Regions from separate parts of the Homo sapiens genome. Here region 2 is linked to region 1. The links come from fine-mapping of genetic effects on gene expression. Tissue or cell type: whole blood. Region 1 holds a variant in brackets; the other region holds the start of a gene. All regions are shown on one strand. Distances are from middle to middle. Region 1 has its middle 27 kb from the start of TCF20. Region 2 holds the start of TCF20 (transcription factor 20).

Region 1 (5,365 bases):
GTGTCCCTGAACAAGTGCCTTTCCCTTCCTGGGCCTCAGTGCCCCCTGGGAAACAAAAGCGTTGCTGCCCACCATCAGAAGTGGGAGGTGACCGAGGTTCTGGGCCCCAGTCAGGACATGCTCTATTTGGCCCATGTGGCGCTTTTTTTCTTTTTTTTTTTAGTTTGAGCCAAAATTAAAACAGGGAAGTTTTCACATACAAATCTAGATTTCTGGCTTCTGTTGATATCTGGGCTGGCCCAGCCACGAGCTCTCACCGGCAGGAGTAGCTGGGTGGTCTTCACTCTTGGCCACCTGCCCAGCCTCCTAGCAGAGGCCCCAAAGCCCTGCCGCTCTCCTTGGGGGAACAGGTTTCAAAACCTGCCTCCCCTTACCCTGCCTTGAGATAAAACCGCATTCCCCTAACCCCCTGATATTCCAGACAATCTGCCTCGTTTTAAAATTCCTTCAGCAGCCCCAGGCCCAGCGGCTTCTACCAGCGAAGGAACGAAGGAACGAAAGGAACCAGGCTGCACGTGACTGCTTTGCGGCTGGGGAAGGCTTTGATGTTGCGGGTGATTTCAGCGCGCCCCTCCCCCTCCCCCTCCCCGCCCTTCCTTCCCCTCCTCTCCTTTCTTCCTCTGCTCCCTTTCCCCCTCCTCCTCCACCCGCTCCAAGCTTCCCTTCTACCCCTTTCTGTCTTTTCCCTCCTCCCTCCTCCCCTCCGCTTCCTTCTCCCCCTTCTCTCTTCCCCTCCCCCATCCCCACCACTTCCTCCTCCTCTGCTATTCTCTCTTACCGACCCCACTCCAGGTACCTGCTAATTGCACTTCCCTCCTGCTATTAATTACCTGACCTAGAGAGACCCCAGCCAGGTCACTCCTAGGAGGTCTTGAAGTGTTGGGGTGCGGGCAGGGGGGCCTGCGTTCGGGGAGAGGTACAGAGGTTGGAGAGCTGCTAGCTGGGACAGAAAGGCAAGAGGGACTGGTGACCAGTGGGACATGTGATTCCCCTCCACCCCCATTCCAGTTCCTCGGGGTTCCTGGGTGACCCACCACTGCCAGCATGTTCTGTTCATGAGGCCTTGAGGCCCCTTTGTCCTGGGGGAAATTGAGGCCCCAGGGCATTGGAGGTTGGCTAGGAGTGGGGAGGGGAGATGGGAGAGAGAGTCCATGGGGAGGGAGAGCAAGGTAAGGACTGTGTGAGAGGCAGATGGAGAGAGTGCCAGAGCAGGGGGCTGGATGTGGGGAGAGGGGCTGGGAAGGACCCTCAGTTCCTGCACCCCCAGCCAGACATGGCCTCACCTCCTTGCCGCCGTCCTCCCTGTGATTGTCCTCTGGGCTCACTGGTTGCTCTTGCTGTCTGCCTACCGCCCCCTTGCCCCCATCCTCCCGTGCCTTCTAAAGGCCAGAGAAGCCTGCAGGGCCAAGTCCAGATTTTTGGGGGTACCCCTCCAGGTCTCCGTTCCCCTCCACAGCAGGGGTCTGGGCAGGCGGTGGGTGTGGGAACCCTTGGAGCCCACCCATCACTGCCATGGTTATTCTCTGTTTCAGTTGGTCCACAGCTTCTAAGGCTGAGGACACACCAGTGGGTGCCTCCTCTGTGCTGGCCGTGGTGCCCGGCCCCTCCCTGCCCTGGGCCCTCTCGTCCTCCCCCGACTTGAGGCAGGGATGGCTCCTGGAGGCCGGGGCATTGGGCACGCTGGTTCTGGACTGTCCTGGGGAAGGCCTGGTGGGGAGGGGACTGCCTGCTGCTCTGGCCTCCAGGCTCTGGCCCATCCCTGCTGTGGTTTCTTTGGTCAAATTTGTCATCTAGGTGGGTGTCCCCACAAAAGGCAAGTGCAGAGATAGATGAAATTAGGGCAAACTTGCGACCATGCCAGCTGGTAGGCCTACTATGTGCCCAGCTATCCACAGGGGATGTGAGAGTGTTGCCTGTCCCACTGCCCCCTCCCCCAGCACCATCCGTGCAAAGATGAAGAGCCCAGGCTCAGGGAAGTGCCGAGACTTGACAGCAGGGCTGGGACCCAGGCCTTCTGCTTCGGGGTTCTGGGCAGGATGGTCTTCAGTGATAGCCAAGGAGGCTTCGGCCCTGGAGTCACCACCCCGGCATGTGCCTTGTTTTCCTCCTTGAAACCATAGTGACACTACTCCTGTCTCCCTAGAATAACTTCTCAGCAGCAGCTGCTGTCGCCTTCCACACCCAATGGGTGCCCCAACAACAGTCGGCCCTTTGGGTCAATCGCCCATGTGCCCACCTTCACCTACCCTCTCTCCAGGAGCACCTCCGCTGATGTCAAACCCTGCCTGTCCTCACTCATCCCCTGCTCCATCTCAGTTCTTGGATGAGTCGCTGGA[A/G]GCTGAGCCTTGGCTCTGGCTGAGGGCTCAGCCCTCCTCCGGGCTAGGGAATCTGGTGATAGGAGCACCAGGGCCCTGGGATTTGTGCCCTGATCAGCTGTGTGACTTTGGGCAAGTCACTGGCCCTCTCAGGACATGTGAGAAATGGAGACAGTGGTGATGCCTTCTCTCCCATGGGTTTGCTTTGAGTCTATTGAGAAGACAGATGCTGAAAAGCCCCACCACTTTGTACAGATGTGAGCAGCTGGGCTGAGCGGTCACCTTTGCACCCCCAGGCCCAGCCCTGAAACCAGCACATGTTCATCCTTGCCTGCTCTGCATGGGTGCCAGAGAGGAGCCCTGCTGTGAACCCTCCATGTGTTCCTTCCACCCTGGGTCTCATCTCCTCACCATCAGCCAGGAATGCTGGGCCCTGCCTGACAGGGGCCCCAGCTGGTGGGGGGATGCGACCCGAGGCCTTCTGTTGTGGTTTGTGGGGCAAGAGGGGAGTCCACACACATTTGTCTGAATTGTGTGGCTCAAGATTCTCTCTGGCCAGTATTTCCTAAGTCTGCCTGGTCTGGGTTGGGAGAAGAGGTTATGAAGGGGAAGCTCCTGGGGGCTGAGCTCGAGGCTCAGGGATCATGGGCTTTCATGGCTGACCCTGTGAACTGCCCCTCCCCAGTGTCTGGCCCCTCCAGCCCAGCCATGGGGCTCACCCAGCTGTGCCCTTGGAGGGTGCTCAGGAGGCAGTGGGGGATGGGAGAAGGTTGGGAGGGGCTCTGATGAGTTCTTGTTGCTGGTAAAAAGAAGGCACAACCAGTGTCCTTAGATTTACCGTCTAATGCAAATGAGGACCCACTCCTCATTCTTGCCGCTCCATGAATATGACCAACCCTTAAGCCAGCTAGGGAGTCTGACCTCTGCTCAGGCCTGGCAGGGGACAGGAAGTAGCTCCTCACCTGTTTTTCTTTTTTCAGCCCCCTGGTCAGTTCTACAGCGTAGCCCTCTCTGATCATGCCCATTTTCCAGATGGGCAGCCTCCTTGCCCAAGGTCGCCCAGCTGGGCCATCCATTGTGGGTATGGGCACTGAGGCCTGCCTGAACCAGTAGTGCATAGGGGTTGGGACACAGGTTCTGGGGCCCAAGTTTAAACTGACTTCTCCAGTTTGCTGTGTGGTTCTGGGTGGGTTACTGCACCTCTCTGAACTCAGTTGCCACATCTGTAGAGTGGGTTTAACTATAGCACCTTCCTTTGGAGAGATGTCAGTGCCGGAGTGCATGGAGCACCTGGCATGGAGTGAGTGCTTGCTGAGTGTCAGCTGTAGTTGCTGCTGTTTTTACTGTTATTTGACTTGAAAATCTCCCCCTGCTCCTCGTGCTGCTTTCTCATTCGCGAAAAGCTGAGCTGAATAAATGGCGACGGGGCCTCCTGGGTCCCCCTGCAGCGTGATTACATCCCTGAGCCCTGCTTGGGGCTGGCATCAGCAGGGCCCCCTTGTGGCTCGGGTGGTGAGGAGAAACTTGGCCCTGTCGCACTGCCTGGCTGGAGCCCTGTTTGGGGGTGGGGGTCTCAGCCCTGCCTGGCCTGCCTCCCGGCTGACAGCTCGGGCACTGTGAGCTGGCTGCCAGCCAAGCTGCTTCCTCTCTGGCTGGCTGGCATCCCGGGCCCAATGCCAGGGGGCCGGCTGGTGGGCAGCAGCTCGAACGCCGCAGGGCTGTGATCCCGGCCAGGAGACTCCAGGCAGGGCTGGGTGTTGGGGCCTCCAACTGCCCCTCATGGCCCTTGGGGAGCCGGGCACAGCTGCACTGGCTCTCGGCACCACCCCCAAGTTGGCGCCGTTGCAGGTTTGCAAAGCAGCAGCAAAGAGTGCAGCCAGGGCAGTGGGAGCTGTTCACATCCTCAGGCCTGTCTCACAGGGTCAGACACTGAGCCAGTACTTGCTGAGTGTCCATGTGTCCAGGGCCTGTGCTGGGGGTCAAGGACACAGCATCCCGTTCGCTGAGGCCTGGCTCGGGGAGGCCAGGCTGCTGCTGAAGATGATGATGGTGGTCATGATGGTGATCCTGCACTGCCAAGCACTCACCTGCCAGGCAGGGGTCTAAGTCCTGACACATCTTCACTCGGTAGTCCTCACAAAACTCAGATGGGCTAAGGACTGTTCTTACCCCCATTTTACGGATGAGGAAACAGATCCATCTATAGCTAGAAAACGGGGAAGGCAAGATTGGAACCCCAGCTTGCTGGCTTCAAAGTCCATGCCCTCAGTGATGCCCAGGGTCTTGTGGAGGGCAGCCTGTACCATGTGGGAACTGGTCACGCTGTGTGGAAAGCCTGCCTGGAGGAGGAGGGGATGGGTATATGGGTTGGGGCTGAAGGCTGCACAGGATTTCTGCTGCTGAGGTGGGGAGTTCAAGGAAGGCTTCTCTGAGGAGGTGTCATTTAGGCTTTGGCCTGAAGGACATGAGCTGGTTGTATGAAAACATAAGGGAGTAGGCCGGGCGCGGTGGCTCACGCCTGTAATCCCAACACTTTGGGAGGCTGAGGTGGGTGGATCACTTGAGGTTAGGAGTTCGAGACTAGCCTCAACATGGAGAAACCCTGTCTCTACTAAAAATACAAAATTAGCCGGGCGTGGTGGTGCCTGCCTGTAATCCCAGCTCCTCAGGAGGCTGAGGCAGGAGAATTGCTTGAACCTGGGAGGCGGAGGTTGCAGTGAGCCGAGATTGTGCCATTGCACTCCAGCCCGGGCAACAAGAGCAAAACTCTGTCTCAAAAAAAAAAAAAAAAAAGAAAAGAAAACATAAGGGAGGAGCATCTCAGGGAGGGGGACAGCCAGGGCAGAGGCCCCAAGGCAGCAGCAGGCTTGCCAGGTGGGAAGGACCAGAAGGCAGCCCAGCGGTGGGGAGTGTGGAGTGAATGGGGCTGAAAGGGTAGGGCTGGCTCACAGAGGGTGGGGAGGCTGCAGCAAAAGAGGAGTTTAGGGTGGCTATGGTGCAGGGGCAGCTGTATGCTTCACCTCAAATGTTACTGTCTTCTCTCTCCATCA
Region 2 (5,365 bases), 27 kb after region 1:
TCACCATGTTGGTCAGGGTGGTCTTGAACTCCTGACCTCAGGTGATACACCCCCCTTGGCCTCCCAAGTGCTGGGATTACAGGCGTAAGCCACTGTGCCTGGCCTATGCAGCTCTCTTGAGAGTCCCACAACACCTTATGAGTGAGGTAATTAAAAAAAAATTTTTTTCTTTTAAATAAATAGAGATGAGGGGGAGTCTCACTGTGTTGCGCAGGTTGGTCTTGAACTCCTGGCCTCAAGCAATCCTCACACCTCGGCTTCCCAAAGTGCTGGGATTACAGGTGTGAGCCACCACACCCGGCCCAGTGAGATAATATTATCTCCATTTTATAGCTGAGGAAACCAAAGGGGGAAGTGACTTGTCCAAGGCCACGCAGTCCAAGAGTAACCCACATCTTCCTGTTGGCTATGATGCCCATACACGTTCTTTTTCCAGATGGAACCAAAAGAGAAAGTGGCAGGCTTTCAGGGATAAAGAGGCCCAGCTGGCCTGGTCCAAGGACTGGGGAAGTTTCCAGGTGGAGGGCATTGGGGCAATGTTCTGGCAGGGTCTGAAAGGGCGGGGAGGGGGCTGCATGGTTATAAGAGGCAGGAGCTGACAGGCGCCTGGACTCCAGTTATCTGTCTGCATTCTTTATTCTTTCCCTTTTGAATGAGGCTCTGCGACAGATTGTCAGCATCCCCCGGGCCCTGCATCTGAGACGCAAGTGAGGTTATGAAGAAGGGAAAGAATGGAAGAATGATGGGGCAGGGGACTCTAAGGAAAAAGGATTCATCTTTCTTCATGAATTCTCTCAAGAAATTAAGGGTGCCCCCAACACCAGTCTTCAGGAGGCCCTGCATTCTCCTATTTTTGTCCAGAAAACATTGATTTGTGCTGAGTGCCTCTTCCAGCTTTCCCTTTACAGCCCTGATCCCAGGAGAAGCCAGGTACTGGTCTTTTAAAAGTCTTGAGGCCTGAGAATTTGAAAATGAAACTCAGAAGAACAATGGGAATAATCAGAGGGCAGGGCCCCGTGGCTTGTTCAGCTCTGCCCCGGAAGAGCCTGGCATGCAGGAGGTGTTGGGGAATCAAGTCCCCAGGAATAGTCCTGACCTGCTTTGGAGCCAGCCCCCACTTTGTGAGATTGGACAGAAGCCAGGAGAAATCACTGCCTTCCCCAAGTACATGCTCCTGCCAAGGGGCCCAGGACCACCTGGGGCTCTGCCTGGGACCCTGAGACCCTCCTTGGGTAGCCTGAGAAAAGGCAATGGCTAGGTGGGGTGAAAGGTCAAAAAGTAAAAGCAGGCCCCGGGAAGCTGTGTACCTCAAATATATGGAAATCTGGGTTCCAGACCACACCTGGTTCCTGACAATCCCCACCTGCTGCCGGAAGCACTTTTCCAATCCCAACTTTTAAGTTGGGTTGCTTCAGGAGAGGAAGCCACATACTCCCCTAACATCTAGGACAGATGGGAGCCTAATTTAGAATCGGCAATTTTAGCCAACATTAGGGACATCTAATCCAAACTCTCCTCACCCACAGGAAACTGAGGCCCAAAGTGGGAGGAGAATTTGGCCAGGTCAAAGGTCAGGGGCAGGATCACAAATTCTCAACGCATCCTACTCTTGCTGGCCTTGTCACTTTTGATGGCCGTGGGGGCACCAACATCTACATATTAGTTGCTCTACAATTGCGATTTTCTTTATAAAGAAGTCAAGCCCTTCCTTTGCTTTAGAAACATCAGGTTTGCAAAGGAAGGCTGGGAACAAGCTGAGGCCTTGGCACCGCAAATCCTCCGCCTTATCGGCAAATTAATTCGGGACCCTGGGCGCAGTCAGCCTGGCATTGCAGCTTCTTAATGCCGCAGCAGAAGGCAGCTGGAGCGTCCGTTTTACAGGTGAGGTAGGTGGGCCTCCCTCCTCGCGTTTTCCGCGGTGGAAACTGAGGCTCTGAGAGGACCCAAGTCGTTCCTCCACGGACACCTGGAACCCATGGGCGGGGGCTGCCAGGGACCCAGGCGGGACCAGCTAGGTCTTGGGCTGCCCCCGGCCCAGAGGGCTCTTGGCGGGCAGGAGCCGCCCCCACGCCCGACCCCACTAAACAGGTCACCGAGAGGAGACCGGGTCCTCGCCCGCGGACCTCCCGGGCCGCAAGAGGCGCGATTCTGGAGTTGGAGGCTCCAGGGAACTCCAGAAATCCCAGAGAGATTCCGGGCCACCAACTCCCCCAGAAAGTTGGCTCGCGTCCACCCCCAAGACGGCCCTGAGGCGCAGGCCAAGATGGCACTGGGCGGGTGGCGCGCGGCGCCCAGCGGCCGCAGAGGAGAACCCCGTGCGACCCTGCCGCGAGGTGGGGGTCTTCGCGATCCCTACCCGGCGCGCGCCAGCCTCGACGCCGCCGCACGCGGGTGGGCACGCGCGCGCCCGGCCCCGCCCCCAGCGCCCCGCCCCCGCCGCGCGCCCCGCCCCGCCGCGCGCCCTCCCGCCCGCCCGCGCGCCGCGGCCCGGAGCCTCCCCATTGGCCGCGCGCCGTCACCTGACGCTCTGTTATTTCCTGTGTGTTGGGAGAATGGAGAGAAAAAACCCCGAGCCCAGCCGCTTTCGGCCCCTGCGAGGCGGCCGCGGCCTCCGCCAGGGGAGCCCGCCCTGAGGCGCGCCTGACCGGGGAGCGAGCGCGCGGGCCGGAGCGAGCCTCGAGGGGCCGCGGCCCCGGCCCGCCCCGCCGCCGGCCCGGGCGCCCGAGCTGGAGGCGGCGGAGCCACCCCCACCCCCACCCCGCGCAGCGCCGCCCGCCGTCGCCACCGCTCCCTCCCCGCCCGCCCCCGGCGGAGGCCGAGGGACTGGGCGGGGGGCTCCTGCAGGTAACCGCCTCCCGGGCCTGAGGGGCAGGGAGAGGGTTGGGCCTGAAGGACTGGGGCCGGGCCGGGGTGTCCGGCCTCGGGGGCTGGGAGCAGAGGTCCCGGCCGGACCCAACCTGGGAGTGCGGAGCCTCCTGGACTCCGAGTCAGGGCTTGGGGTGCTGAGGGGAGTGTTGCTGCCCGGCCCGACCCAAGAGTGCGGGCAGGGGCCCGGGCCAGGCCTGGCATCAGAGGGCTAAGGTGTCTTGGGCCGGCCCGGGGTTCCGGCGGGGCTTGGGTGCCGGTGCTGGCCCGAGGGTGCGGAGGGAAGGTCTACCTGCTGGTCGCGCGAGGCCTTGGGTGCAAAGGCGGCGGGTGTGAGCGGGCGGCGTCCGGGAGTCAGCGCCGCCTGCTTCGGGGCCCCTGGCAGCCCCGGGGGCACCGGCCGCGCTCGCCTCTTGGCTACGGGCTGGAGGCGAGGCCAGCGGGGCTGGGCCGGGATGTGGGCGGGAGGGCGCCGCGCTGGGGCGCCCAGGAGAGCAGGGGCCCGTTTACTGCCATGTGAACACCTGAAGCCATGTGGACGCGGCTGCTTCTCGCCTGTTGGGGGCGGAGGGCAGGTACCGGCGGGTTGGGCGCAAGGTCCCGGCGCAGGACACACTTCCTGTGTGGGGCGGCCTCTCCTCCCGCGCCGCGGGGAACAGGGCGGGGTGTGCAAGCCGGGGTCTCTGGGCGAGGGAGCGCTCGTTTGGGGACCTGAGGCTTTCGTCCCTTTTTCGGGGGAAAGTGGTGGTTTGAAGGAGCGTGGCCAATCGGGCCGATCCCTCTCAGGCTACGGCGGGAGGTGCACTGTCCTCTGGACGCCGGAATGGGAGTGGAATTTAGTGAGTTGGGGGGCGGTGCCGAGGAGCGGCCGTCTTCCTCTGCTTGTGGGTGGGATTATTGTCTGTTTTTGTGGTTGCGGATACCAATACGGTCTGCTGGTCTGTATTCAATCCTTTAGTTTGACCTTAGGGGTCAGGTCAAAATTAGGATTTCCCCCTTTTCCTTTTTGCTTTTTTTTCCTCGAAGATTAGATGTCTCTGGTAACTGCTGTAAAATGGATGGAATTTTCGAGCTATTATCTAACAGGCTGATCTTTGAATGATAATTGGACCCTTATGTTAACAGCCTCAGTGAAGAGTGAAGAGTTTTATACAGCATCTTCCGTGGGGTGGCAGTTAGGTGGATGGGGAAGCTACACTGAATTCCGACCTGGGAGACCAGGAATCTGCTTACAGCTTTGACGCCAAATAAACTGCAGCCCAGGGCAAGTTACTTTCCCTGGTAATTTTCTCATCTGTTAAGTGAGGACTCCCGGGTCAGACGGTACAGGGGTTTGTGGTTTTGCTTTTTTATCTCTCATTTTGTGCTCTGTTTTAGCCATAGGCAACTTTTCTGAGAAATGCAGACTGTACCTTAGCTGGCTTTTAAAAGCCTGTCTTTAAGCTTCCAGCCTCTGCCTTCAACAGAGCATAAAAGTTGGTCAGGGTACGCTCTTTTTTGAAATCCCACTTGCTGTTCTGTGCTTCAGATCAGAAAGTGTATTATTCTGACCTAGGTGGAATGCACCTTAACATATTTTTTGTCTTTGTGAAAGAAGTTATCAGAAAATGTTTCAGAGAATATTTGTCTACTTGGAAAATGTGTGGATAACATGTGATTGGGTCTGTGTATGTTGGCTCAGAGGAGTTCCAAGATCTTTCTACGCAGGGGATTTTGGAGGATCCAGATTTTATTAAAGTTCTTCAAAGGACATTTGACATTTGGCTAACTGTTGAAATTTCCAGCCAGTTTCAGCATTCTCAGAGTAGGGGGATGAAGTAGAATGCCATAACATCTCCTGTGAAATGGTATGCTAGTGGAATTAACTGTCACCTCAGGGTGCACTGATTATCTGCATCCCCAACTTTCTCCTTACTGGTAGCCAGTGCTCCGCAGATGCTGAAGAACCGCAATTAGTTTCACTGATTTTATGGTGTGTGAAGGCCTTAGGCTGTGCTTTTGACTGGTAAGTATTTCTATACCAACCTCAGAATTTGTCTTAAATTTCTAGAACTGTGCTGCTGGGCCGGATATGAGCCCAATATGTTACAATATGTCTTTCTCAGATCACTTTTTATTTTTATATATTATTTAATTTTTAAAATTAAATCCCCTTTTATTTACTTATTTATTTTGACACAGTGTTGTTCTGTTGTCCAGGCTGGAGTGCAGTGGCACGATCTCAGCTCACTGCAGCCTCTACCTCCCAGTTTCAGGTGATTCTCCTGCGTCAGCCTCCCGAGTAGCTGGGATTAGAGGCATACACTACCACACCCGGCTAATTTTTGTATTTTAAGTAGAGACAACATTTCGCCATGTTAGCCAGGCTGGTCTTGAACTCCTGACCTCAGGTGATCCGCCTGCCTTGACTTCCCAAAGTGCTGGGATTACAGGTGTGAACCACTGCGCCTGGGCTAGATCACTTTTTGATTCAGTCTCTTTGAACAGTTTCCAAAAGGAT

What was found. PIP is the estimated chance that this variant, and not a neighbour inherited with it, causes the effect.
Region 2: it holds the start of TCF20, and the variant in region 1 is fine-mapped to the expression of TCF20 in whole blood (TOPMed, PIP 0.95).

The regions. Positions count from the first base shown.
Region 1 is chr22:42,295,186-42,300,550 of GRCh38, reverse strand. It overlaps a transcript of TCF20 not described here. Among named protein-coding and RNA genes, the nearest start is that of TCF20, 27 kb to the right of the region's middle. RefSeq lists enhancers at 1-92, 4-233, 93-771, 2,145-2,790, 5,105-5,365. The variant A/G (reference allele first, on the strand shown) is at 2,337.
Region 2 is chr22:42,267,818-42,273,182 of GRCh38, reverse strand. TCF20 (transcription factor 20) reads left to right here and starts at 2,530. Exons shown (of 6, transcript NM_001378418.1): 1 at 2,530-2,844. It also overlaps the pseudogene OGFRP1. RefSeq lists silencers at 2,437-2,596, 2,737-2,886, 2,947-3,006, 3,147-3,386 and an enhancer at 3,717-3,776.